Linked DNA regions of Homo sapiens. The protein of the gene in region 1 purifies or fractionates together with the protein of each later gene. This does not show direct contact. Each region holds a gene or a part of one and is shown on either strand. Other genes may lie near its edges. The genes, in order: ZBTB48, APOBEC3C, MAK16, CEBPZ, RBM28, UTP23 and BMS1.

The links.
Region 2: the proteins of ZBTB48 (region 1) and APOBEC3C purify together in Homo sapiens (affinity purification with mass spectrometry; 2 studies listed by BioGRID and IntAct, with this or other methods). This does not show direct contact.
Region 3: the proteins of ZBTB48 (region 1) and MAK16 purify together in Homo sapiens (affinity purification with mass spectrometry; 2 studies listed by BioGRID and IntAct, with this or other methods). This does not show direct contact.
Region 4: the proteins of ZBTB48 (region 1) and CEBPZ purify together in Homo sapiens (affinity purification with mass spectrometry; 2 studies listed by BioGRID and IntAct, with this or other methods). This does not show direct contact.
Region 5: the proteins of ZBTB48 (region 1) and RBM28 purify together in Homo sapiens (affinity purification with mass spectrometry; 2 studies listed by BioGRID and IntAct, with this or other methods). This does not show direct contact.
Region 6: the proteins of ZBTB48 (region 1) and UTP23 purify together in Homo sapiens (affinity purification with mass spectrometry; 2 studies listed by BioGRID and IntAct, with this or other methods). This does not show direct contact.
Region 7: the proteins of ZBTB48 (region 1) and BMS1 purify together in Homo sapiens (affinity purification with mass spectrometry; 2 studies listed by BioGRID and IntAct, with this or other methods). This does not show direct contact.

The regions. Positions count from the first base shown.
Region 1 is NC_000001.11:6,586,387-6,589,780, forward strand, and holds the end of ZBTB48 (zinc finger and BTB domain-containing protein 48), read left to right. Parts: intron 1-190; coding exon of another isoform or gene 191-277; exon of another isoform or gene 278-308; coding exon 309-401; intron 402-818; coding exon 819-905; intron 906-1,091; coding exon 1,092-1,246; intron 1,247-1,673; coding exon 1,674-1,810; intron 1,811-1,891; coding exon 1,892-2,056; intron 2,057-2,369; coding exon 2,370-2,458; intron 2,459-2,529; coding exon 2,530-2,826; 3' UTR 2,827-2,894; downstream 2,895-3,394. UniProt on the Homo sapiens protein: Plays a critical role in transcriptional regulation and chromatin remodeling. Acts as a regulator of telomere length. Directly binds the telomeric double-stranded 5'-TTAGGG-3' repeat.
Region 2 is NC_000022.11:39,017,257-39,020,852, forward strand, and holds the end of APOBEC3C (DNA dC->dU-editing enzyme APOBEC-3C), read left to right. Parts: intron 1-509; coding exon 510-789; intron 790-1,012; coding exon 1,013-1,131; 3' UTR 1,132-3,096; downstream 3,097-3,596.
Region 3 is NC_000008.11:33,498,472-33,501,762, forward strand, and holds the end of MAK16 (protein MAK16 homolog), read left to right. Parts: coding exon 1-158; 3' UTR 159-701; coding exon of another isoform or gene 702-806; 3' UTR 807-1,856; coding exon of another isoform or gene 1,857-2,019; 3' UTR 2,020-2,791; downstream 2,792-3,291. Other genes in the region: TTI2 (TELO2-interacting protein 2), read right to left, coding at 702-806, 1,857-2,019.
Region 4 is NC_000002.12:37,211,097-37,214,596, reverse strand, and holds part of CEBPZ (CCAAT/enhancer-binding protein zeta), read left to right. Parts: intron 1-635; coding exon 636-733; intron 734-1,042; exon of another isoform or gene 1,043-1,160; intron 1,161-1,917; exon of another isoform or gene 1,918-2,204; coding exon 2,205-2,262; exon of another isoform or gene 2,263-2,341; intron 2,342-2,557; coding exon 2,558-2,754; intron 2,755-3,422; exon of another isoform or gene 3,423-3,500. UniProt on the Homo sapiens protein: Stimulates transcription from the HSP70 promoter.
Region 5 is NC_000007.14:128,333,909-128,337,408, reverse strand, and holds part of RBM28 (RNA-binding protein 28), read left to right. Parts: intron 1-206; coding exon 207-278; intron 279-1,366; coding exon 1,367-1,562; intron 1,563-1,729; coding exon 1,730-1,866; intron 1,867-3,500. UniProt on the Homo sapiens protein: Nucleolar component of the spliceosomal ribonucleoprotein complexes.
Region 6 is NC_000008.11:116,772,354-116,775,184, forward strand, and holds the end of UTP23 (rRNA-processing protein UTP23 homolog), read left to right. Parts: 3' UTR 1-2,331; downstream 2,332-2,831. UniProt on the Homo sapiens protein: Involved in rRNA-processing and ribosome biogenesis.
Region 7 is NC_000010.11:42,789,295-42,792,794, reverse strand, and holds part of BMS1 (ribosome biogenesis protein BMS1 homolog), read right to left. Parts: intron 2,473-3,500; coding exon 2,284-2,472; intron 1,169-2,283; coding exon 1,026-1,168; intron 303-1,025; coding exon 181-302; intron 1-180. UniProt on the Homo sapiens protein: GTPase required for the synthesis of 40S ribosomal subunits and for processing of pre-ribosomal RNA (pre-rRNA) at sites A0, A1, and A2.

The DNA.
Region 1 (3,394 bases):
CCCGCCGAAACCCAGGCCCACTCTTCCTAGAGGCCTGTCAGCAGCCACTAGGGCCAGGGACTGTGGGTGAGGCCACTCGGACCCTGCCCCCAGTCTGTCTGGGCCTGAGAAGGGCCTGGTGTGCGGTGGGCTTGCAGCACTCAGTGATGGTCAGGCCAGGCAGGTTATGTGTTGCCCTCTCCCACCCTAGCGTCCCCACCCTCCCCAGGCAGACTCTTCCCAGCAGCAAGCGGAAGCCCGGGCAGAGGCTGCTGTCATAGGCAGAGGCCCCCGCTGATGCCGGCCCTGCTTGCCCCTCACACTGCCAGGTCTTCACGTGCTCTGTGTGCCAGGAGACATTCCGCCGAAGGATGGAGCTGCGGGTGCACATGGTGTCTCACACAGGGGAGATGCCCTACAAGGTCAGGCTTGGCCTGTCTCCAGGGCCAGGGTTGGGTGGCCCCAGGATCCTTCCTGCTGAGCCCTTTACGTGGGGTGCTGTCAGGCACCTCCCTCACAGTAGCTGTCAGGGAGCCTGCCTTCCCTGCCTTCCCTGCCTTTCCAGTGCCCCCTTATCTAGGCAGGGCTACTGTCTGCAGCCTCACCTCCAAGGTCCTTATTAGGCCCTTGTTTCTTTCCATGGAGGACAGGCTTGGCATCCTCTGGGCAGCTGAGCCCTGAGGGCCCTCCTTTGCACCATCCTTCACACCAGATCAGGGGTCCTCCCAGAATCATCTCACCGGGGCCTCCCTCTAGTTCCTGCCCTATAGCCCAAGGGTGGGTGGCAGGGTTTCATGGGTGCAGGCCGCCCTGGAGGTGACTGTGGGCCTCTTTTTCAGTGTTCCTCCTGCTCCCAGCAGTTCATGCAGAAGAAGGACTTGCAGAGCCACATGATCAAACTTCATGGAGCCCCCAAGCCCCATGCAGTAAGTGACAGGGAGGGCTGGGCATGCTTTGATGCTGGCATGAGCAAGAGTGAGCTGTGCCCAGAGTGGGCAGCCGGCCATGTACTTTCTGTTGTTCGGGGGGGTGCTTGTGGGTCTCCCAGGCAGCCCTTCCCTGCTCTCACCCTGGCCCTGGTCCCTCCCTCTGCCTGCCTGGTCTGCCTGCAGTGCCCCACCTGTGCCAAGTGCTTCCTGTCTCGGACAGAGCTGCAGCTGCATGAAGCTTTCAAGCACCGTGGTGAGAAGCTGTTTGTGTGTGAGGAGTGTGGGCACCGGGCCTCGAGCCGGAATGGCCTGCAGATGCACATCAAGGCCAAGCACAGGTGCGTGTCGCCCGTTCTCTCTTGGGGCCCAGTCCTGCTGCCAGCCCAGGCTTGCACCGGCAGGGAAGACAGAGTTTGCTGACTTTTACACAGATGAGTGTGCCCTTGGCCTCCACCCTGAATCTAGTGCCTACAGCCTCTCTGGGATAGTGGGACCTGAGGGGCAAGCAGCTATGCCAGGCAGAGAGGCTGGGGGCAGATGTTTCAGGCTCAGACAAGCCTCTGTGCCCCCGGGGCAGATTCTGAGCTTCCTTAGTTTCCTGTGACTCCTGCTCATAGATTGTCCTTCTGCTCTCGGGGTGGAGGTGGTGCCCCTTTCCTAGCACTGCCCAAGCCCTCTTTCCACCAGGCATGCTCCTAGCTGTAGCAGAGCAAGGGGGTCACTTCCCTTGGTGATGGCCTCTGCCCCATGTCCCCACCTTAACAGGAATGAGAGGCCACACGTATGTGAGTTCTGCAGCCACGCCTTCACCCAAAAGGCCAATCTCAACATGCACCTGCGCACACACACGGGTGAGAAGCCCTTCCAGTGCCACCTCTGTGGCAAGACCTTCCGAACCCAAGGTGAGGTACGCCCTGCCCCTCCCCTCGCCTCCCCATCCTGAGGCCAAGGCCACAGGCTGAGCTCTTGCCTTGTGCCTGCAGCCAGCCTGGACAAGCACAACCGCACCCACACCGGGGAAAGGCCCTTCAGTTGCGAGTTCTGTGAACAGCGCTTCACTGAGAAGGGGCCCCTCCTGAGGCACGTGGCCAGCCGCCATCAGGAGGGCCGGCCCCACTTCTGCCAGATATGCGGCAAGACCTTCAAAGGTACCTGGGCGGCCCTGGGAGAGCCATTTCCTGCTCATCCGAGTTGGAGGGTCTCTGAGGAGGAAACGCTCCTTTCTTGCCTGTGAACCTCTTTTGTGCCCCACATGGTTAGAGTTGAGAGTGGACCTGCTTTGAAGGCAGGGGTGTCCTGTGCAGTAGTGACCCTGGGTGGCACTGGAGAGCCTGGCAGGGCCTGTGCAGCACTTGTAAACCACTGGTCCCCTCCCTTGCTGCCTGTCCCAACCTCCTGCTGGGTTTCCTCGAGGGTCCCGGGGCTCCTGCATGATCCCCCACGGTGTTCTCCCTCTTGCAGCCGTGGAGCAACTGCGTGTGCACGTCAGACGGCACAAGGGGGTGAGGAAGTTTGAGTGCACCGAGTGTGGCTACAAGTTTACCCGACAGGTAGGCCAGGGCCTGGGCCCCTTCCCCTACCCTAGGATCCCCCAAAGTTCTGAGCTCACCCTCCCCGCCAGGCCCACCTGCGGAGGCACATGGAGATCCACGACCGGGTAGAGAACTACAACCCGCGGCAGCGCAAGCTCCGCAACCTGATCATCGAGGACGAGAAGATGGTGGTGGTGGCGCTGCAGCCGCCTGCAGAGCTGGAGGTGGGCTCGGCGGAGGTCATTGTGGAGTCCCTGGCCCAGGGCGGCCTGGCCTCCCAGCTCCCCGGCCAGAGACTGTGTGCAGAGGAGAGCTTCACCGGCCCAGGTGTCCTGGAGCCCTCCCTCATCATCACAGCTGCTGTCCCCGAGGACTGTGACACATAGCCCATTCTGGCCACCAGAGCCCACTTGGCCCCACCCCTCAATAAACCGTGTGGCTTTGGACTCTCGTATTTCAGCCTGACAGTCTGTTCCCGTGTCCTGGAGTTGGGGAAGTGCTGCCTTCCCACCCACGCCTTCAGGAGAGAGTAGTGCCCTGCCCGGTCCTATGTGGGCCTCAGCTCAGCTGGCAGCTTCCCCTCCTGTCAGGAAACCTCAGCTGAGCGAGGCTTGGATGGGGTTCCTTTGGGGGCCAAACCTCTGGCCTTGGCTGCTCTCCACATCTGTATTCTGTTCCTCATTACTGCAGGATTTTAGAGTGGGGAACGCTGGCCAGTTAGAGCACCAGTATTCCTATTTTAGAGCTGAGGTGATACCGGCTTCTGGAGATAGAATTCATTACTAAGCTTCTGGAGTTCAGTAGAGTGATCAGGGCCCACGGGGCTGGCCTTGTTGGGCAGAATCAAGGATTGGGCCCAGTTAGTGTAGCTGAGCACGCCTGGGGGTCTGAGGAGGGTGGGGCCCTTCCTTCAAGCAGCCTGGTCTGTGTCCAGGAGGCTTTGGTCCCCACGTT
Region 2 (3,596 bases), on another chromosome or scaffold:
AAGAGAGAAGGAGAAGGATAGAAGAAGGGAAACTCAATGAATAAAACACCCTGGGGCCTACTATGTAGCCAGAAAAATGAAAAGTAAAGAAATAAAATAAGGCTGTGCATGTGGTTTATGCTCATAGTCCCAGAGCTTTGGGAGGGTGAGGCAGGAGGATCGCTTGAGCCCAAGAGTTCAAGATCAGCCTGGGCAACATGGTGAAACCCCGTCTCTAAAAAAATTATTTAAAAAATTAGGCAGGTGTGGCGGCATGCACCTGCATCCCAGCTTATCAGGAGGCTGAGGTGGGAAGATTCCTTGAGCCTGGGAGGTCAAGGCTGCAGTCAGCCCAGATCCCACCACTGCACCCCCTAACCTGTGCACCAGAGAGAGACCCTGTCTCAAAAATGAGTAAATAAGGAAACGGCCCGGGGCTCCAGGCCCGCCCTCTGCTCCCATCGCCCCACCCCTGCACTCCTCCTGCTCCTGGTCTGAGCTCCCCTGTCCTCCTCCTCCTCCTTCGCCAGGTGGATTCTGAGACCCATTGTCATGCAGAAAGGTGCTTCCTCTCTTGGTTCTGCGACGACATACTGTCTCCTAACACAAAGTACCAGGTCACCTGGTACACATCTTGGAGCCCTTGCCCAGACTGTGCAGGGGAGGTGGCCGAGTTCCTGGCCAGGCACAGCAACGTGAATCTCACCATCTTCACCGCCCGCCTCTACTACTTCCAGTATCCATGTTACCAGGAGGGGCTCCGCAGCCTGAGTCAGGAAGGGGTCGCTGTGGAGATCATGGACTATGAAGGTGAGACGTGGGGGGCTGAGGAGAGTGGGTGCAGGAGGGACAGCATGAGGGGCAGATGGTTCTCCAATGCTGTGGGGCGGGTCAGTGTCCCCTGGGTGTCTGTGGGGACCGGGCCAGCGCCCACTGCAACTGGCAGCCTGGATACCTGGGCTGGGAGGGGAGGGCCCAGGGCCAGGAGAGAGGCCTGCTGGGCCCTCACTGTTTTCTCCTTGTTTTTTCTCAGATTTTAAATATTGTTGGGAAAACTTTGTGTACAATGATAATGAGCCATTCAAGCCTTGGAAGGGATTAAAAACCAACTTTCGACTTCTGAAAAGAAGGCTACGGGAGAGTCTCCAGTGAGGGGTCTCCCTGGGCCTCATGGTCTGTCTCCTCTAGCCTCCTGCTCATGCTGCACGGGCCTCCCCTCCACCCTGGACCCGCTCTGTTTCTGCCTGGTCATCCTGAGCCCCTCCTGGCCTCAGGGCCATTCCACAGTGCTCCCCTGCCTCACCGCTTCCTCCTCGCTCTTCCAGACTCTTCCTGCAGAGGCTCCTTTCTGCCTCCATGGCTATCCATCCACCCCCACAGACCCCGTTCCTCCAGCCTGCGTGCCCCTAACCTGGCTTTTCCCATCTCCCCAGCATAACCAAATCTTACTAAACTCATCCTAGGCTGGGCATGGTGACTCACGCCTGTAATCCCCCAGCAATTTGGGAGGCAAAGGTGGGAGAATCGCGTGAGCCCAGGAGTTCCAGACCAGGCTGGGTCACATGACAAAGCCCCATCTCTACAAAAAAAAAAAAAAAAAAAAAAAAAAAGCCAGATGTGGTGGCATGCATCTGTAGTCCAAGCTACTTGGGAGGCTGAAGTGGGAGGATTACTTGAGCCCGAGAGGTGGAGGCTGGAGTGAACAGAGATCGCGCCACTGAACTCGGGTCTGGGCAACAGATAGAGACCCTGCCTGAAAATAAATCGATAAATAAACTCAACCTAAACAGGTGTGAATATATGTAAGTTGAAAACCCGAAGTTTTGAGAAACATCCTTTGTAAATTTCATCCTATGAATTGGGTCATTCATGTCCTACCCAGCTAAAACAGAGGCCAGGAGCCAGGGAGGAAAAGCAGTCAGGCCACACAACATTGTTTCCGAAATGGACTTCTCTGCAAGCCTGACTCCTGAGACTGTGCATTGTACCCTGAAACCAGCTTTATCCATAGCTTCTGCGATAAATGGCTGTAAGTCTTGGACTCCTTGCTCCAAACGCAGCGACTCAGCAATAGAACCTCCCAGCTCCCAGCCCTTCCTAGTGCCCATGGGCTTTACATAGGGCAAGAGAACATTTCTCCTTCTATAATTGCCATCTCTTTGCTCTCTCAACATGGTGAACACCATCCGGACTCCGTGTATGTCTCAAATTACAATTCTTTCTTTGCAAATGAAATATGAAATTTAGAGGCTCTTCTAAACACTTTAAATTTGATTTGACATTTTCAAAGCAGATGTAAGTTTTAGAGAATGAGATTCTCCATAAAAATGACCCTTTCATGCTGTGGCCTCCATAGAAGATGTCCCAGGCCAGGTGCCCACATGGCAGGCATTTATTTTCTCACAGATCTGGAAGCTGCAGGTCCAACTTCGAGGGGTGGGTGGGGTTGTTTCCTCTGAGGCCGCTCCTTCTGGCTGGCAGGGAGTCTCTTCCAGCCGTGTCCTCTGTGGCCTTTCCTCTATGCACACGCACCTCTGGGATCTCTCTGCCTCCAAATATCATCTTTTTTTTTTTTTTTTTTTTTTTTGAGACAGAGTGTTGCTCCTCTTGTCCAGGCTGGAATGCAATGGCACAATCTGGACTCACTGCAACCTCCGCCTCCCGAGTTTAAGCGATTCTTCTGCTTCAGCCTCCCGAGTAAAAGGCATGCATCACCACACCTGGTTAATTTTGTAGTTTTAGTAGAGATGGGGTCTCACCATGTTGGCCAGACTGGTCTCGAACTCCTGACCTCAGGTGATCCGCCTGTCTCAGCCTCTCCAAGTGCTGGGATTACAGGCATCAGCCACTATGCCCGGCTGGGATCATATGTTCCACACATGTTTGTTCAATAAGCATGGACTGCAACCACCTACATGAATATTCATAGCTCCTCCTGTAGCCTGTTGAATATGTATGTTTAGCCAACCTCTTCAGCATAAAGCTCCTGCCCAAACCCCTCCTGCTCCTAAATGTCTGTCTCTGGTGTTAACCAGAGGCTGCTCTTCCCAGGCTGCTGGATGGCTACCTTGCAGGCTGTCACCCTTAACAAGAAATAAAGTGTCCTTTGCAAATGCATCCCTTGTGTAATTTGTAGGTCACCGCGCCATGGGAACACGCTACCATGGGAAGGGAGCTGTGAGACGCGCAGGGAGGCTCCAGACAGGCTGGCCTGGGACACCAGCCGCTGCCCTTCCATAACATGGGGACAAGAGAGGGCAAAAGTTCAGCCCAACACGGAGGATCTTCGGGCAGGAGATGGGGAAGAAGGAGAAGCAGGAAGGAAAGAGCTCAGTGTGGGGGCGCGCATGGCATCCCGGTGGGACATCTGAGGCCCACACCCACCTGCTGTCCCTCCCTCCCACGGTGGCCACCGAGGGTGAAGGCCTGGGGGGAGGCAGACGCCTGGCCCTTTACTCTCCCTCCCTGTCCCCATGGCCGCTGGGTGGGGGCCGTCTCTGGGATGATCCCCGAGGGCAGGATCCGGGAGTCCCTGCAGAGGCATCAGCCTGTCTGTCTTGATGGTGGAGTGGCGGCTCCAGCTGGGCGGGACCACCAGGGGAGGGGCTTGTGCTCTG
Region 3 (3,291 bases), on another chromosome or scaffold:
ATGGTAAATCCTCCAGTGAGGAGGAGGAAGAAAAGGCCCTTAGTGCGAAACACAAAGGCAAAATGCCCTTGAGAGGACCACTGCAGAGAAAACGAGCCTATGTGGAAATAGAATACGAGCAGGAGACAGAGCCCGTGGCCAAAGCCAAAACCACGTGATTTCCCTTTCAGCATTTATACCCAGGACTGAACATGCAGAACTGTTTTTTTTTTTTTTTTATCTTAAACACATACACACCTCCAGTTTTTGCTCTTTTGTGTTGTACTGAACACAATATTTGTGTTTTTATTATTTATGCCACGTCAGTGGGGCAAGAAATCTGGAGTGAGTGAAGAAAGCTAAGTTGTGAACAAGAGTGTTTTTATAGCATATGTGTTGAAGTAACAGCTTGTGCCCGAGAAACTTAACAGATGAGTTCTTGAATCTGGGATGAGATGACGGATGTAAATATTTCTAAATTTTAAATGCTACATTACTTGGTGTCCTTTTTTCTCCCAAACTTTATTTAGAAATGGAAGGAGTTCAATTTTTTCTTGTTCTACTTTCCCTATTCTTATGGAGGTAAAAGGAAAGGAAGGAAGGAAAAAGCAGCTTTCACTTACAAAGTTTCGTGTAAAAATATCTTTTTTTCTTAAATAACTCCATTCATACAAATTGGGATGGGAAGAAAATCCTTTCCTCTTGGGAAAGTAATACAAGTCTTAAGTTCCATTGTAGGGTGCGCCTTCAGAAACCTGCTGCACTTTTCTGATATAGTTCACCACTTTTCTGTCTTCACAGCTTTGGGGAATTTTGGCCAGGAGACCCTGAAACATGAAACCAAACAGGCTTTGATATTTTTTTTTTTTTAATTACTTTCCCCTTTTGCTTGATTCTTCTTCCTTGGTATCATATTCAAAGGAGGAAAGAATGGATGACACTTAGGGACAGGTCACTAAGCAGAATAGGTATTAGTTGGTTTTTTATTATTTTTAAATTTATATAGCTCTCATGTATTGAAGGTGCTACTTTAAAAACTGTGTTAATGTACTTGCAAATCTCCTGCTGGCTCATGAAACAGCAGAATTCCAGCCAAGGCAAATTCAGTTGGATCTAGGGCTTGAAAACTGCCCAAGATTAAAGAGCTAAGATGAAATAGTTTGAATAAACTGGTAAAATAACAATTCATACTATCTCTACATATTTTTAGGATATGAATTTTTTTTTCCTGCTGGGTAGATTGTCCAGTGACTTATGGCATGAATTTCTTTTCATGCTACCTTCAATCTTCAACTAAAGATTTCTAAAAGGGGTAAGAAATGAGGCAGTAGTTTATTAAATACATAGAAGTACACAGCTATTATATGCTGTGGCTTTGAGAAGTTAACTTTTGTGGAATATGAAACCAAAGGAAGAATTTCCATGTAGATAAATTAAGAATAGGGAAAAACATCTACCTAAAAGATGGTTGTCCCTAAAAAACTGGAAACATCTGAAATGCTCTATTTATGTTATTATTCCTGGGAGCTTATAGCCCATTATTTTTACTTTTTTTTTTTAATTCAGAAGACTAGAACAGAACTTAAATTTTACAAACTTTTGATCATAATGCTTTTGCCCATACTGTCTCGTCCTTAGCCCCAGTGACATGTGCTGATCCTCCTGCCTTTAGTTCTAAATGGTTCTGAATAGCTTTAAAAGATGAATAAGAAAAAAGATCAAGCTCTTTTGAGGCTAGAGGGCTCATATGGAGATCTAAAACCCTCCATGTTCATTTCCAGACTTGGTCAGGCACATACATAGTAAATTATAATCAATCATGGGAATTACATAAGGATAATGAGGCCCAACTGAAACCAAGTTTCAGTCTGCCTTACCTTTACCCGTCCTTGAGAACAGCGGTCCAGGAGAATCAGGCAGTCTGTGGCCTCCTGTAGCAGGGCGCTCTTAACAGACTCAGGTGTAAGGTTTGGATCCCTTGCTACATCACAAATCAGTTTCAAGAGGGCCTTCAGTAAGACCACAAGTCTGCAGGAAACTCTGGAATCAGGAAGAAAAGCTATGTTCATACTCTAAATCTGGATATTAAAATTGGAAGAGACTTCAAAGACTGTCAAGTGGAAAGCTATCATTTCCTAAATTAAGGAACTTAGGTCAAAGTTAAATGAAAAAGACCTAAAAACAGAACCAAAGACAGCCTCTAGATTTCTTACCCTCAAGTCTCCTGTTAGCATACTGCCTATACACACAGACACACCCTCTGCCACACTGCTCTCTTCCTTCCAGAAGCTTGGTTCTACTGTAAGCAACAGCTCCTTCATGGGCTGAGAAGGGGAAACCAGGATCTCCCCAACCAAGGGCCTATACTTTTATTTTTCAACTCTATTAACTGAACTATGCTTGGAGAGAGCCCTGAATCCTTTAACTTTAATGCCATCTTAGGCCTGGAAGTTAGAGTGAGGGAAATGAGCTTGGCTTCTGGGACTGTGTCAAGTTGAATTTTCTGTCATTTAATTTCAGATCCTAGCTCATCATCAGTGAAGTCCAGCCTACTTACTTGTAACTATTAACCTTTCTAAAAGTTTTCATCGCCTTGGTAAAGCTCCAGAAATGGACAATGCTAGTGACTGCACAATATTGTGACTGTACTTAATGCCACTGAACTGTACACTTTAAAATGGAAAATTTATATGTATTTTTACCACAATAAACAAAAAACCCTAAAAAAACTTTAATGAAAGGTGGAAAATAATTTAACTTACAATGTGAAAATACAATGTGAAATGTACAATAAATCATATTTATGGACAGATGCGTGACTGGGAGAAAAAAGTTTTCATCTCTATCTAAATACTCCTCATTTTCCTATGGTTTGGGTGCCTCTCAGCCCTCGTTATTCAACTTATAATCGGCTCTGTTTTCCATTTCCCATGCTTCACCCCCTCATACGCATACACACATATTCCTTTTCTACCTCCCTACATTTATTCACTCTCCCTTCTTGGAATCTTGGTCTCTGCTCTTTAAAGACCTGACAATCTGATTCGATTTTATTCATCCATTGATTCATTCTCTTCCAGTCCATTCATTCTTTGAATATTTGTATACCTAATACTAGGTACTGAACATACTTTGGGAGAATATAATAGATGTGGTTTTCCGTTATCCTGGAGATTATAATTCCGTAGGGAGAAAGATAGTAAACAAATGCAACCTAGTTACCAATATGACTAAGGGAAAGGTTGTCATGGGGAAATGTTACTCTGGATTCCTTGCACATTTATAAGGAAGTGAGAGAATACGGTGCAGAAT
Region 4 (3,500 bases), on another chromosome or scaffold:
TGGGAGTTTTGTTAATTTAGCATATAAATTTTGTTTTATGCTTCTTTTTGGAATTTAGCCTTTAATTTCCTTTTATAATAATTTTCTTTATAGGCTTAAAATCTACCTTTAATATAGATTTTAATATAATACTTTAAGTTTAATATAGTGATAACTCATGGGTAATTTATCCAGACCATGGCCCTTAGAATGGATTCAGTGCACTGTTATAGAAATAAGTCCTAAACCAACTAGTATCATAACCTAATGCCTTAGGGTAGTAAAGTACCTCTTATCTCATCTGGTTGACTGGTTAATTAGGTTTGATTTGGCTTGTTTTTTAAAATCATTTAGAATGAATAATTTTGAGGGTTTGATTACATCTGTAAATGGCTAAGTTTTGCTGTATTCTAATATAAGAATAGGGCTGATAAAATATTATCTTTGAAATGTATTACACTTAAAAGATTCCAGCTACTTTTTATTGAGTTAAACTATTTTTTGTATATTAGATACAAATTTCAGTCATTTATTTCCAATTGAGTATACTTAAGATTTTACAGTTGTGGTTTGCCACTGGTCATAGGTGCTTTGATGATATATAGTAAGATTAGACCTTTAATAAAATTGTCAAATATATAACATGAATATTATAGGTATTATAAAAAAGTTGCTGTTAAAGAGAAACAAAAACGGGATGCAGATGAAGAAAGTATAGAAGACGTGGATGATGAAGAATTTGAAGAGCTGATTGGTAATTTGTTTTGTTGACTCTTTGTAAAATAATCTACTACTATGTGTTAATAGACCATGGAACATTAGTGGGAGAAGTGGCCTTAGTTTTAAAAAATCACTTAGCTAAGAATATCATGCAAATCACAGTGGAAGATTAAGAAATATTTGGGGCCAGGCGCTGTGGCTCACACCTGTAATCCCAGCACTTTGGCAGGCCGAGGCAGGAAGATTGTTTGAGGTCAGGAGTTCGAGACCAGCCTGGCCAATATGGTGAAACCCTGTCTCTACTAAAAACCCCAAAAAATGAGCTGGGCATGGTGGCACGCACCTGTAGTCCCAGCTACTCGAGAAGCAGAGGCACGAGAATCGCTTGAATCCAGGAGTCAGAGGTTGCCGTGAGCCAAGATTACGGCACTGCACTCTAGCCTGGGTGACAGAGTGAAATCCTGTCTCAAAAAAAAAACAAAAGAAACAAATATTTTTATGATATATGGTAATTCACCCACATTTGCACCAGAAAAATACATGATTTGTGCTTTGGATAGTCTATATAAGAAAACATTTATATTTGCTTAAGTCTATTCAATTGTTACAGCCAAATCTCATGTGAAAAAGAAATCCTTTTTACTATTCATAATCTATTATAGTATATCAGTACTAATTGATAGCAATAGTCTACTGTTTGATCTTTTTTATCTTTAATCCACAGAGCTACAGAAATTTTGATTGAAACTTAATAGACTTAAACAAAAAACATGGTAAATTGGAAAGACTTACACTGATTTCACGTTACATATTTTTTTGTTGTTGTTTTTTGGGGGGTTTGTTTGTTTGTTTTGAGACAGGCTCTCTCTGTCTCCCAGGCTGGAGTGCAGTGGCACAATCCCAACTCACTGCAGCCCTGCAGCCTAGACCTTCTGGGCTCAGGCGATTTTCCTGCCTCAGCCCCACGGGTAGCTGGGACTACAGGTACATGCCATGATGTCCGGCTCGTTTTTTTTTTGTTTTTTTTTTTGTTGTTGTTGTTTTTGTTTTTTTTTTTTTTTTAATAGAGATAGGGTCTTGCCGTGTTGCCCAGGCTGATGATCACTCCACCTCGGCCTCCCAAAGTGCTGGAATTACAAGCATGAGATGTTACATATTGTATCACACCTATTAAAAATGAGCACTTAAGTAGTTCTAATAGAGTAAAAAGGACGACAATTGCTAAATATCATTTTATTTGATATTTATCCTCTTTCCATAAAAGAACTGTAGAAAGAGCCGAAATTAACTGGATCCTTCTTTAGTTTTGGGATTTAACTAAGATCAGTATTTCACAGGTTTGTATACATTATTAAGGCACACTAGCAACAGTAACATTTACATTGTTTTGGTGTTCACTTGTCATAAACAGCAGAATCATGACTTAGAATAATTGATTCAGATACAAGATATATGTCAAGCTTGTCATTCTTTGTTGTATCTCACATTTCTGTATTGTCTGGCAGACACATTTGAAGATGATAACTGTTTCAGCTCTGGAAAGGATGATATGGATTTTGCTGGGTAACATACTTCTATCTTCTCCTTCCTATTTTTCTAGCATTTCCCAAATTGTTGTCCCTCAGAACAGTAGACCACAGAACTATATGATAAAGGGGAAATGTAGTCAAGTAAGTTTGGGAAGTGGATACAGTACTTTCATCTTTGACATTTATAAAGCACGTTATTATTTACTCTGAGCAGTCTGCAAAGCTTTCTCCTTCTGAGTCATTTAATAGCCTACTGCCCTAGTAGTCAGCAAAACACTACTTTAGAAAATACTGCCTCCTCTTGTATTACAAGTTGTGTTTTTTTCCAGAAACGTGAAAAAGAGAACAAAAGGAGCTAAGGATAACACATTAGATGAAGATTCAGAAGGTAGTGATGATGAACTTGGTAACCTGGATGACGATGAAGTTTCTTTAGGAAGTATGGATGATGAAGAATTTGCTGAAGTTGATGAAGATGGAGGAACATTCATGGATGTGTTAGATGATGAAAGTGAGAGCGTTCCAGGTAAGCATTTTTTAAAATAAGACATAAACTGTGTCTTCCTCACTTCCTTAGCCTTAAGTTTGTTTTTCTGCTAAAGGTTTTTAATATAGCCCTGTATTCAAATTAATACTCATGTCAGCCAGAAACTTAAAAGGACCTTTTCCCTTCTCGTTTGGAGCTGAAGGGTTTTTATTGTGTGTTATGTGTGTTTTCTTTTAAGCAGCTTTTTGAGCTTTGGACTTTTACTTTAACCAGCAGCTAGCTTCTCTGTACAATACATGTTGAGCTGAAATGCTGCCATTTTTTGATAGTAATTAGCAGTTTATAAAAGTTAATCAGTATTCATCATAGCCCAGCATAGATGAAGGTGAATATTTTATCTTGTAAATTAGCAAGGAACACCCAGAATTGTCTCTAGACTGTTGTCTGACCTTTCTGTCCTTTCACATACCTCCAGCATGCACATGCCTGCCCAACATTCTTCTTACTTATTCTGAACCACAGCAGAAGTTTCTTGTTTTAAGGGGTTTTATATTATTTGGTCTTATTAATGAAGCTATTTAGAAAATTTTGTACTTGCACAAAATATTAGAACTGTGCCAATTCTTAGAGTCTTTTTCTCAGTCTGTCCTCAAGCCTATGCTAGTGGAATTACAAAACCCACATGGAATAGCAGTATAGTGCCTTACCATCAGAATAAAGATTTTAGCATATCTTGGAGTAATATTTTCCAGTCTTATTGTTTTTAAATTGCTTATTAGCAAATT
Region 5 (3,500 bases), on another chromosome or scaffold:
GCAAAATTTCTGTTCATTGATAAAAAGGTTAAGGGTTAAAAGGAGTAGGCAGTGACTAGGAGCTTTATTTTAAGACCAGCATTCCCTGAATTGGCAGTTTCTTTGTCTCCACTGGTTCCATTATTGTCTGTGATGACTAGGGGTCATTTACAGAGGTAGGGTTTTTAAAAGGAGAGCCTTTCTGATGCCACTTTTCTGCTTGACAGGCCGGACAGTGGCTGTGGATTGGGCCGTGGCAAAGGATAAATATAAAGATACACAGTCTGTTTCTGCTATAGGTAAGATGTGGTAGTGTTGGGTGAGTAGGGGCGTTGTATAACCTGGGTGAGAGTATTGAAACAACTCCTGTGTTCATGATAAAAGTGTAAGAAAAAGGCTGGGTGCAGTGGCTCTTGCCTGTAATTCCAGCACTTTGGGTGGATTGCTTGCAGTCAGGAGTTTGAGACCAGCCTGGCCAACATGCAAAACCCCATCTCTACTAAAAATACAAAAATTAGCTGGGCTTGGTGGTGGGCGCCTGTCATCCCACCTGCTTGGGAGGCTGAGGCAGGTTCTTGAACCTGGGAGGCAGAGGTTGCAGTGAGCCGAGATCACCCCACTGCACTCCAGCCTGGGCAACAAAACGAGACTTCGTCTCAAAAAAAAAGTGTAAGAGAACCTGCTTATCAGAGTAAGACTATTGTGGAAGATTAACCAAAAGAATGAGACTGGGCTTTCAGGGAAAACTCTGAATTCCTGCTGGCTCAGAAGTGAGTCCAGGTCTGTTTGTCAATTCATATTGTACCATTTGGTGCTCTGGTCCCAAAACCTAGGCTCTTTTGAGTCTAAGCCCCTTCCTGGGAGTGGCTGTGAGTGAGCCTGAGTTCACTGTCCCCTTTACTTGCTGTTGTTTCCAGGCTGTGCATAATAGGAGTGATGGAACATTAAGAATAGAGAAACTTAAAACTTGAGGTTTATTTAGAAAACAATTGGCTGGTAAGCCACCAGGGTCTCAGAGAATAGAACGCACTGAGATTAAAGTTCATGGCTTGGCTTTGCCCCCTAGTGAGCATTTTGCTGGCTATGATGTACGAATGGTAGACTGCTTGGAGAGGCTCAGTTGCCACTTCTTTCAGTCTGGGCCAGATGAACCTTCAGACTGATGAATGGGACAAACTCTAAAGGAATCTGGGTGTTGAGAGTTTTGTTTATTTCTGTTTTTGCTTTTTCTTTTCTTTATACTTTCTCCTGTTATATGCAGTAAGAAAAATATACGAAATTCTGTAAAACCGATGAAACCAAGAACTTGGAGTATTGGTTACTTTTGTTAAAATAACATTGTTTTGGATATTAAATGAATTCCTCCTTTCTTTACCTCCCTCCATAGGTGAGGAAAAGAGCCATGAATCTAAACATCAGGAATCAGTTAAAAAGAAGGGCAGAGAGGAAGAGGATATGGAAGAGGAAGAAAACGATGATGATGACGATGATGATGATGAAGAAGATGGGGTTTTTGATGATGAAGATGAAGAGGAAGAGAATATAGAATCAAAGGTGACCAAGCCTGTGCAAATTCAGAAGAGGTAAGCAGCTCATCCTGTTCTGAGACAGCAGAGGAAGATTCAAGATTGTCTCCGAGAGGAAAAATTCTCCTTTTTCTGCCTGCATCATTGCAGAATTGACATGTGTAATGAAATTGAATAGGCCCTCTGTCAGCCCACCTCCTTAGTTCTGATCTGTGCCATTGCAGAGCAGTCAAGAGACCAGCCCCTGCAAAAAGCAGTGATCATTCTGAGGAGGACAGTGACCTAGAGGAAAGCGATAGTATTGATGATGGAGAGGAACTGGCTCAGAGTGATACCAGCACTGAGGAGCAAGAGGATAAAGGTTTGTTTGGATTTTCATAAATGTCTTTAGACTTTAAAAAAGTTACTGAAGTTACGGAAATGAGCATCAGTTCTGCTTAGATCTCTTTTTAAATAGGACTCTAAGGTGTTCTATCAAATTTATGTTTAAATGCTGAAAAGGAAACCTTTATACTCCTTTCTTCCAAAGGTTTTTTTGTTGTTTCCTTTTTGTTTGTTTTGTTTTTTAAGTGAGTTTTGGAGTGGTGTTTGAGGGTTAAGATTCTTAGGGAATTGAAAACCTAGCTTAATGCTGAGGTTCTACCTCTCTCTGGATTGTCCAACTTGATAGAATAACCAGGTAAACAGCATCTTATACAGATAATATAGATGAAACAGATGATATAACCATCTCAACATCAAGCTAGATTTTAAACAACTCCTTGGAGTTGAGATGGGGATAAAGAACTGTTTAGTCAGTTTGGACTGACATAACAAAATACCATAAACTGGGTGGCTTAAACAGCAGAAACTTATTTTCTCACAGCTCTAGAGGCTAGAAGTCCCAGGTGCCAGCTGATTCATTTTGGGTGCAGCTCTCTTCCTAGCTTGCAGACTGCTGCCTTCTCGCTATGTGCTTGCATGGCCTTTTCTTTGTGGCTTGACGAGGGGAGAGAGAGAACAAGTAACAGTGAACTCTGGTCTCTCTTTTCTTATAAGCACAGCAATCCTATCAGATTAGGGCCCAACCTTAAGACCTCATTTAGCTAGCCTCAGTTACCTCCCTAAAGTCTCTGTCTCCAAATACAATTATATTTGGGGTTAGGGCTTCAATGTATGAATTTTGGGGGAACACAGTGCGTTCCATAACAAGGACCTCTTTGAACATGTTGTAAAACTTTAGCCAATCCTTATTGCTACCTTTATTGAGAATAAATTCAACTTGTTTATTGAGGAAGGCAGGTCATTACAGAATGAGAAATGGCTAATAACTGGTTCTTTGATTTGTCTGGGTGGAGATTTTTATTTCAGCTGTTTTTATTCTGATTCCATTTCAGTAAGTCTGACATGTTGGTTTGACCATATAAGAAATCTGAGGAAATAAGCTTTTTCTGTGAGGAGAGAATGGTATACACCTTAGAATCAAAGAAGCTTCTACACTGAAGGGACTCTGAGATCCTGTATTCTACAACCCACAGTCAGCTGTCTCATGCCATTCTTTCACCTAAAAAACTTATAGGACAGATAAATGATAATGATAAAAAGTTAAAACACAACACAGAAGAGTGTAATACACAAAGTAGAAGTTTCTCACCAATCCTAACAATTCCCTGAAGTAATCACTGTTGTTTCTTGTGCATCCTTCCAGATATTTTCTTTGTATGTATAAGCTTATATGTCTGTTCTTGAAAACAAACAGTGAGTCTCCCTTATACCCAGATCCTCAGCTTCTTAGGGAACTTCCCCAGAGACAACCAAGGTTATTTGTTTCTTGTGTATCTATAGATATTTTAATACATTTATAAGCAAAATGCACACATATACACACACATATACACATTCAAAATGTAGTGTATTTTATAATTTGTGTGTGATTGTATGTGTATGTTTTTTCCTCAAAGTTTCCTATGTCCTATACAGTATTTCCAGAAAGTTTACACTGTCATAGTAGTATAT
Region 6 (2,831 bases), on another chromosome or scaffold:
TGTGACAAAAAAAGAGGCAGTCCCTCTTTCACATTGACAGAAGAAACTTCCTCTTTCAATTCTAGTAGTTGAAGAATTTATATTTCCAAATTGTATGATTATACCGCTACTTTTTGATACATCAATTATTTATTGACTTCCTACTAGAAAGAGTGAAATTTTGCCCATTTATACTGCACCATTTTTCCAGTATATGAATATTTTACTCTTTGTACATCAGAAACTCAGTATTTTCATTATTATGACTAGAGTTTTTTTGTTTGTTTGTTTGAGTTCTACTTGTCCAATAAGGATGATGATTTTCTTTTAGATGTAAATGTTAACTTCAATAGCAAGAATTCAAAAATAATATTCTCTTTGAGATTGACTGTGAATGTTATTGAAAAGTGTCTAAATTAGTCTGAGGATCAATGAGGGTCAATTCAGTTAGGAATTGAATAATGAAACGTGTCTCTCTGAATTCCCCCGGCAATTGTTTTAGTCATTTATCAGGCCAAAATTAAAATGTTTTTGTACTACAAGATGGAAGTATAAAATTATTGGACAAGTGAAATCGTATCAGTAGTTCCTGACTGACAGCTTCTGGAGCCACACTAGAGCAGTGATTCTCAGTCTAACATTAGGTTATCATGATGACGTATGAGTAAATTCTTAATGGTTAAATGTGAGACAGTTCACATTTATTCCCATAGAAATGTCATTCTCATTTGAATTCAGAGATACTTCTTTGCTGGAAGTTGGAATTATAGCTTTACACCAAGGAGTGACACGTAGACTAATCTGGCAAGCCAAGGTAGTGTTTGGATTGCAATGTCATGATTCTATTTTAAATTCTTGATGGTAGAAACATTTTTAATAAGGAAGGTAAAAATACTGGAAAAAAGTGAATAGTGTAGGTTTTGTGAGGAAAGTTAACATTTGTCAATGACAAGCATTAAGGCCACCTAATAAAGTGTAGACAAAGTGATAAATGAAATATACACTGATGATACTCATTTCAATATGCTAAAATACATTAAATTTAGGTATTACTCTTAATCTATTTCTACTTAGTCAGTGCTATCTGATTACCTGTTAATAGCATCTGAACTGGAGAGCTGGAAAAATCCACTTTTTTATGAAGCAGTAATTATAGAAGTACTAAAAATTACAATGTATTAGTAAGTTTAATATTTTGACAGGGCATGGTGGCTCACACCTGTAATCCCAGCACTTTGGGAGGCCGAGGCTGGCAGATCACAAAATTAAGAGATCAAGACCATCCTGGCCAACATGGTGAAACCCTGTCTGTACTAAAAATACAAAAATTAGCTGGGTGTGGTGGTGTGCGCCTGTAGTCCCAGCTACTCGGGAGGCTGAGGCAGGAGAATCGCTTGAACCCAGGAGGCGGAGGTTGCAGTGAGCCAAGATCATGCCACTGCACTCCAGCCTGGTGAGAGAGTGAAACCCCGTCTCAAAAATAAATAAATAAATAAGTTTACTATTTTAAAACTGGTTAATCATTTATGTATTTTGCCAGTAAAATTACTTTAAAAGATATTTTAACAAAAGTCTCATATCCTTGTACTTCAGTTTTTTTGTGTGTGAATACTATCCCTATACCACTACCCCTAAAACCTCAGAATTATTTGCTTTATTTTTTCATACAACTTGGGGAAGGGAACCATGGGAGTATGCACATGGGATCATAATCCATTCTGTGGTTTGGAAAAAGAAAATGTTAACCTCTGCTTTAGAGGGTAGCTACTAGCTTTGTTGGGGATAAAAGTGTAATACATGCACTTTTGAACTCTGAAAGTTTGCCAATCTGAAAAGGGGTGTTTCTGAAGACCACTATCTTTTACGAACACTTAAAAATAAGTGTTTGCAGTTGTGTATGGGCACGATACTGTATTCTTTACATTTTTATGGCCCTACAGCTACTTCTTATCCCTGCAAGTATATAAATTAAAACCAAGTCACTTTAGAACAGCTTTGAAACTAGAGTTTCAAAGGTAAAAGGATCTCATGTTTCTGAATCTGCGTAAAGCAAGATGGCTGTGATTTGACAGGTTTAATTGCTAGTTTTTTATAGGTGGATAGAAATGAATAGTTTGGAGTCTTTAAAATGTTTTAAAAAATGTTTGCTTACTATCTATATATATGACATTATTCCCAATTAGTTTTATATCTCCAAGATATATATATGTATATAGGTATATACACATATGTATATATACATAGTCTATATATTCTATATAAGAATATATTCCAATAAGAATATATTCCATACGGGAATATATTAGTCATTGATGTATTTTGCCGGTAAAATTAAAAGATATTTTAACAAAAGTCTCATCTCCTTGTACTTCAGTTTTTGTTTTTTTTTGTTTTTGTTTTTGTTTTGTGAATACTATCCCCATACCTATATTCCATACAGGAATATAGTCTATATATTCCATATAAGGATATATTCTATATATTCCATTTAATATATTCTATAAAAATATATATTCCATATAAGAATATAGAATGTATAATACACGAATTTGTACTGAGTAGAATGTGTCAATACATATTTGTTGAATGAATGAAAATGAAGGCCAAGTGTGGTGGCTTATGTCTGTAATCCCAACATTTTGGTAGGCCAAGGTAGTAGGATCACTTGAGCACAGGAGTTTGAGACCAGCCTTGGCAACATAGGGAGATCTCATCTCTACAAATAATCGAAAAATTGCCAGGTGTGGTGGCATGTGCCTGTGGTCCTAACTACATGGGAGGGTGAGGTGGGAGGATCACTTGAGCCTGGGAGGTTGACATTGTAGTGAGTCTTGATCATGTCACTGCACTAC
Region 7 (3,500 bases), on another chromosome or scaffold:
AGAGGTCAGAGAAGAGGGGATTCAGTAACACCTTTGCAGGCCTACACATAGGTGGCTTACTTTTAAAACCTCCAGCAAGGCCATCTTCCCTTGTTTGGTCATTTTTCAGTTTTCCTGAGAAATGAAGCCATCCCAAGAATCCTATGTGTAATTCTAGTATGTTCTACAACAAGAGAATACCTGGCATGTGAATTTGGCTTTTATTTTTCAAGTGTGCTCCTCTTAAATAACCATAAAGTGACACCTTCCGGTCACATTTGATGTTTGTTCGGATATCCTCTGGGTTTGTCAAATCTTCCATCCTAGAAAAATAAATTCAATCACAGCAGAAATGAATGCCAAAAGTTCCTATACCTCCTTTCATGTGTCAATGATTCATCACACTCTTGTCCATTAAGCACGTCATTTAGAAAACTAGAAAATGCAGAAATAAGGAGGCACCATTCACCATCCACCAGAGGAAAAGGGGCAGACACACAACTGTGTCTCTAGGCTGAAAGTGATATTCATTCCATAAGACACCAGACAGGGAGATGACGTCCACCTGGGGTCGGGGAAGAGTGAAGAACATATTCAGAAAATCCCTTTCTGGAAGAGGGCGAGCCTGTGCTCTGGGATTTTTACTGTGGCTTGGATTCTGGCAGGTGGAAAAAGGGAATTCCAGGCTGAGAAAACCACACGAGGAAGAGCACAAAGGAAGGAAACAGAAGGCACACACGAAGGACTCAAGCACCCGGGCATGAAGGCAGCATCACTGAAAACTGAGGCTGAACGTAGGATGGGGCCACATCCTGTAGCCTTAAATACTTCCAAGTTCTCCCATTTTCCTTAACATCTCATAATTAATTTACTCCCAAAGGCACGGCATCTTTGAGCAATGATATAAGTAGACATTTTCCATCAACTACACTTCTATCCCCCCTATTCAAATCGGCACAAAATAAATCCTATCACTGTTCTTTTTCTAGCCTTTTTAGCTTTGAAATATATGGCCCAGGAAGAAAAAGCTTAAAATCATATTTTACCTGTCTGCCAGGATATAAGGGTGAGAAGTTTGCCATGTGAGAGGCCTAAACTTCATAACTGTAATAAAACGGCCCAGATTGTGGATTTCTTGGTTTTGATATTCTCCATGCACCATTCCAGAAAGGTAGAACAGCTTGGCACCCTAAACATTAGAGGAAAATTAAAAATTAAATTTCAATTAAATTATCATCAATACTGCAACAAAATAAAAGCTCTAAACAAGAAGCAATCCTAAGAAGGGAGACTTCCAGCAAAGCCACTGTCCTGAGGCTTCCAGAGCCTTGCTGGCTTCTTTCAGGATTTATTAGAACCCCACAGAGGCAGACTGCTCTGCAGCCGAGCCGGGGCATCCATCTAAGTATGGTGAGGAGAGGGAGGTGAGGCGTCTGAGCACAGAAACGGTTCTGTGGCCAATGGTCCAGAGCAGTATAGAAAGGAAGGGGCAGTGCCTGGTCCTGTAACTGGGAGAAACTTCCGAGGTACTCTATTAAGTCCTGACCCCAAAACAGCCAGACACTGCCTGGTGCAGCAGGTACAGAGAGAGACAAATGAGATACACCAAGAGGCCCCAAACAAGCACTCTTTTGAGGGAAACCTTCCAGAAAACTGAACACACACACAAAGGAATTCAGCAGGCCAAAGACTGAACACATACACAAAGGGAATTCAGCAGGCCAGAGACTGTGAACACACACACAAAGGAATTCAGCAGGCCAGAGACTGTGAACACACACACAAAAGAATTCAGCAGGCCAGAGGCTGAACACATACACAAAGGAATTCAGCAGTCCATAGACTGTGAACACACACACAAAGGAATTCAGGAGGCCAGGGACTGTGAATACACACACAAAGGAAATTCAGGAGGCGAATCCTAGAGAGACGTTTAGTAATGTCTCTTTAGTATTTTTTTTTTTTGAGACAAGCGTCTCACTGTGTCACCCAGGCTGGAGTGCAGTGGCGTGATCTCAGCTCACTGCACCCTCTGCCTCCTAGGTTCAAGCAATTCTCACTTCTCAGCCTCCTGAGTAGCTGGGATTACAGGCGCACGCCACCACACCGGACTAATTTTTGCATTTTTAGTACAGATGGGGTTTGGTCATGTTGCCCTGAGCTCAAAACTCTAGGCTCAAGTGATCCGACCGCCTCTGCCTTGCAAAGTGCTGGGATTACAGGTGTTAGCCACTGCACCCGGCCTCTTCAGTCTATTTTAAAAGGATTATACTGTTAGTATCCAACAATTATTTCTCTTCGTACCGGGTAAACTTCCGTCCAGAACCTGTGTTTTAATCGCTTCTTTGTCTTCTTCAGTTGCTTATTATGCTTGAAGGAGTCGAGGTGGGTGAGAACTCCCATAATTTTAGGAAAGCCATGTACTTGACAGATGTTTAGAAACTCAAACGTTTCCATTTCAAACCCAAAGCTGGCATCTATAAGCATCAGTACCTAAAAGCAGAACACATAATTTCTCAAAGAAACTACCAAAACAGACCACCTACACTAAGGGTTGGCAACTGGCCACGGGCAAAATCCAGCCCATCACCTGTGTTTGTAACTAAAGTTTTATTGGAACATAGCCACATTAATTCATTTACATATTGTCTATGGCTGCCTGTGCACTACAACTGCAGAGCTAAGTAGCTGCAGAAGATATGATCCACAAAGCCAAAAATATCTACTACCTGGCCCTGGACGGAAAAGTTGCACTCCAGACTAAATCAAATGACTACACAGGCATCACCCAGACAGAGAAACCACCACCCTCTGACTTGCTCTAAAAGCCAACCCATAAGACAATGTCCACTAGGATATAAACTTCCATTATAAGAATTTTAATGTATGAGAAGTAACTCAGAAAAGGCTGGGTCTAACCTGGCCCTTACCTAAGAAATCCTAATTTAAAGAAATCAAGTTTTCTGTAAGGTATTTTTAAGCCAAATAACAGGTCTCTGGCATCCAAAGAATGGGAAGAGAGTCATAATCAATGAAATACATTAAATATGTACAGAAAACCAACCTCTTCTTTCAATCGCCTCATAGAAAAAAAAACCACAATCTGTTTTTTGTTGAGAAGTATGCAGTGGAAACCTCTATCTTATATGTTAATTTGGATAACTCAATTGCTCAGAAATTTTTTTTAAATAGCTACCAGTTTAGAATTAGGTAAAAAAAAAAACAGTAAGATTACGATGAATGGTAGTCTATAAGAAAATATAAGCAGATGAGACCAATTTTTAAAATTTAAGATGCTTCAAAGATGCAAAATAATTTCAGAATTGATTCCTGGAAATTTCTAGTTTAAGTATTAAAAACATTTCTGTTCTTATCTTTGCATAGATAACTAAAAATAACAAAAAAAATGGAAACAGAAATGCCCATCTTTGATTAAACTAGGAAACATTCAAAATCCGAAACCACAGAATATATGAAGGTGGGCTTGTGAGAAAGCACAGCTGCTACTGTGGACTGAGGCA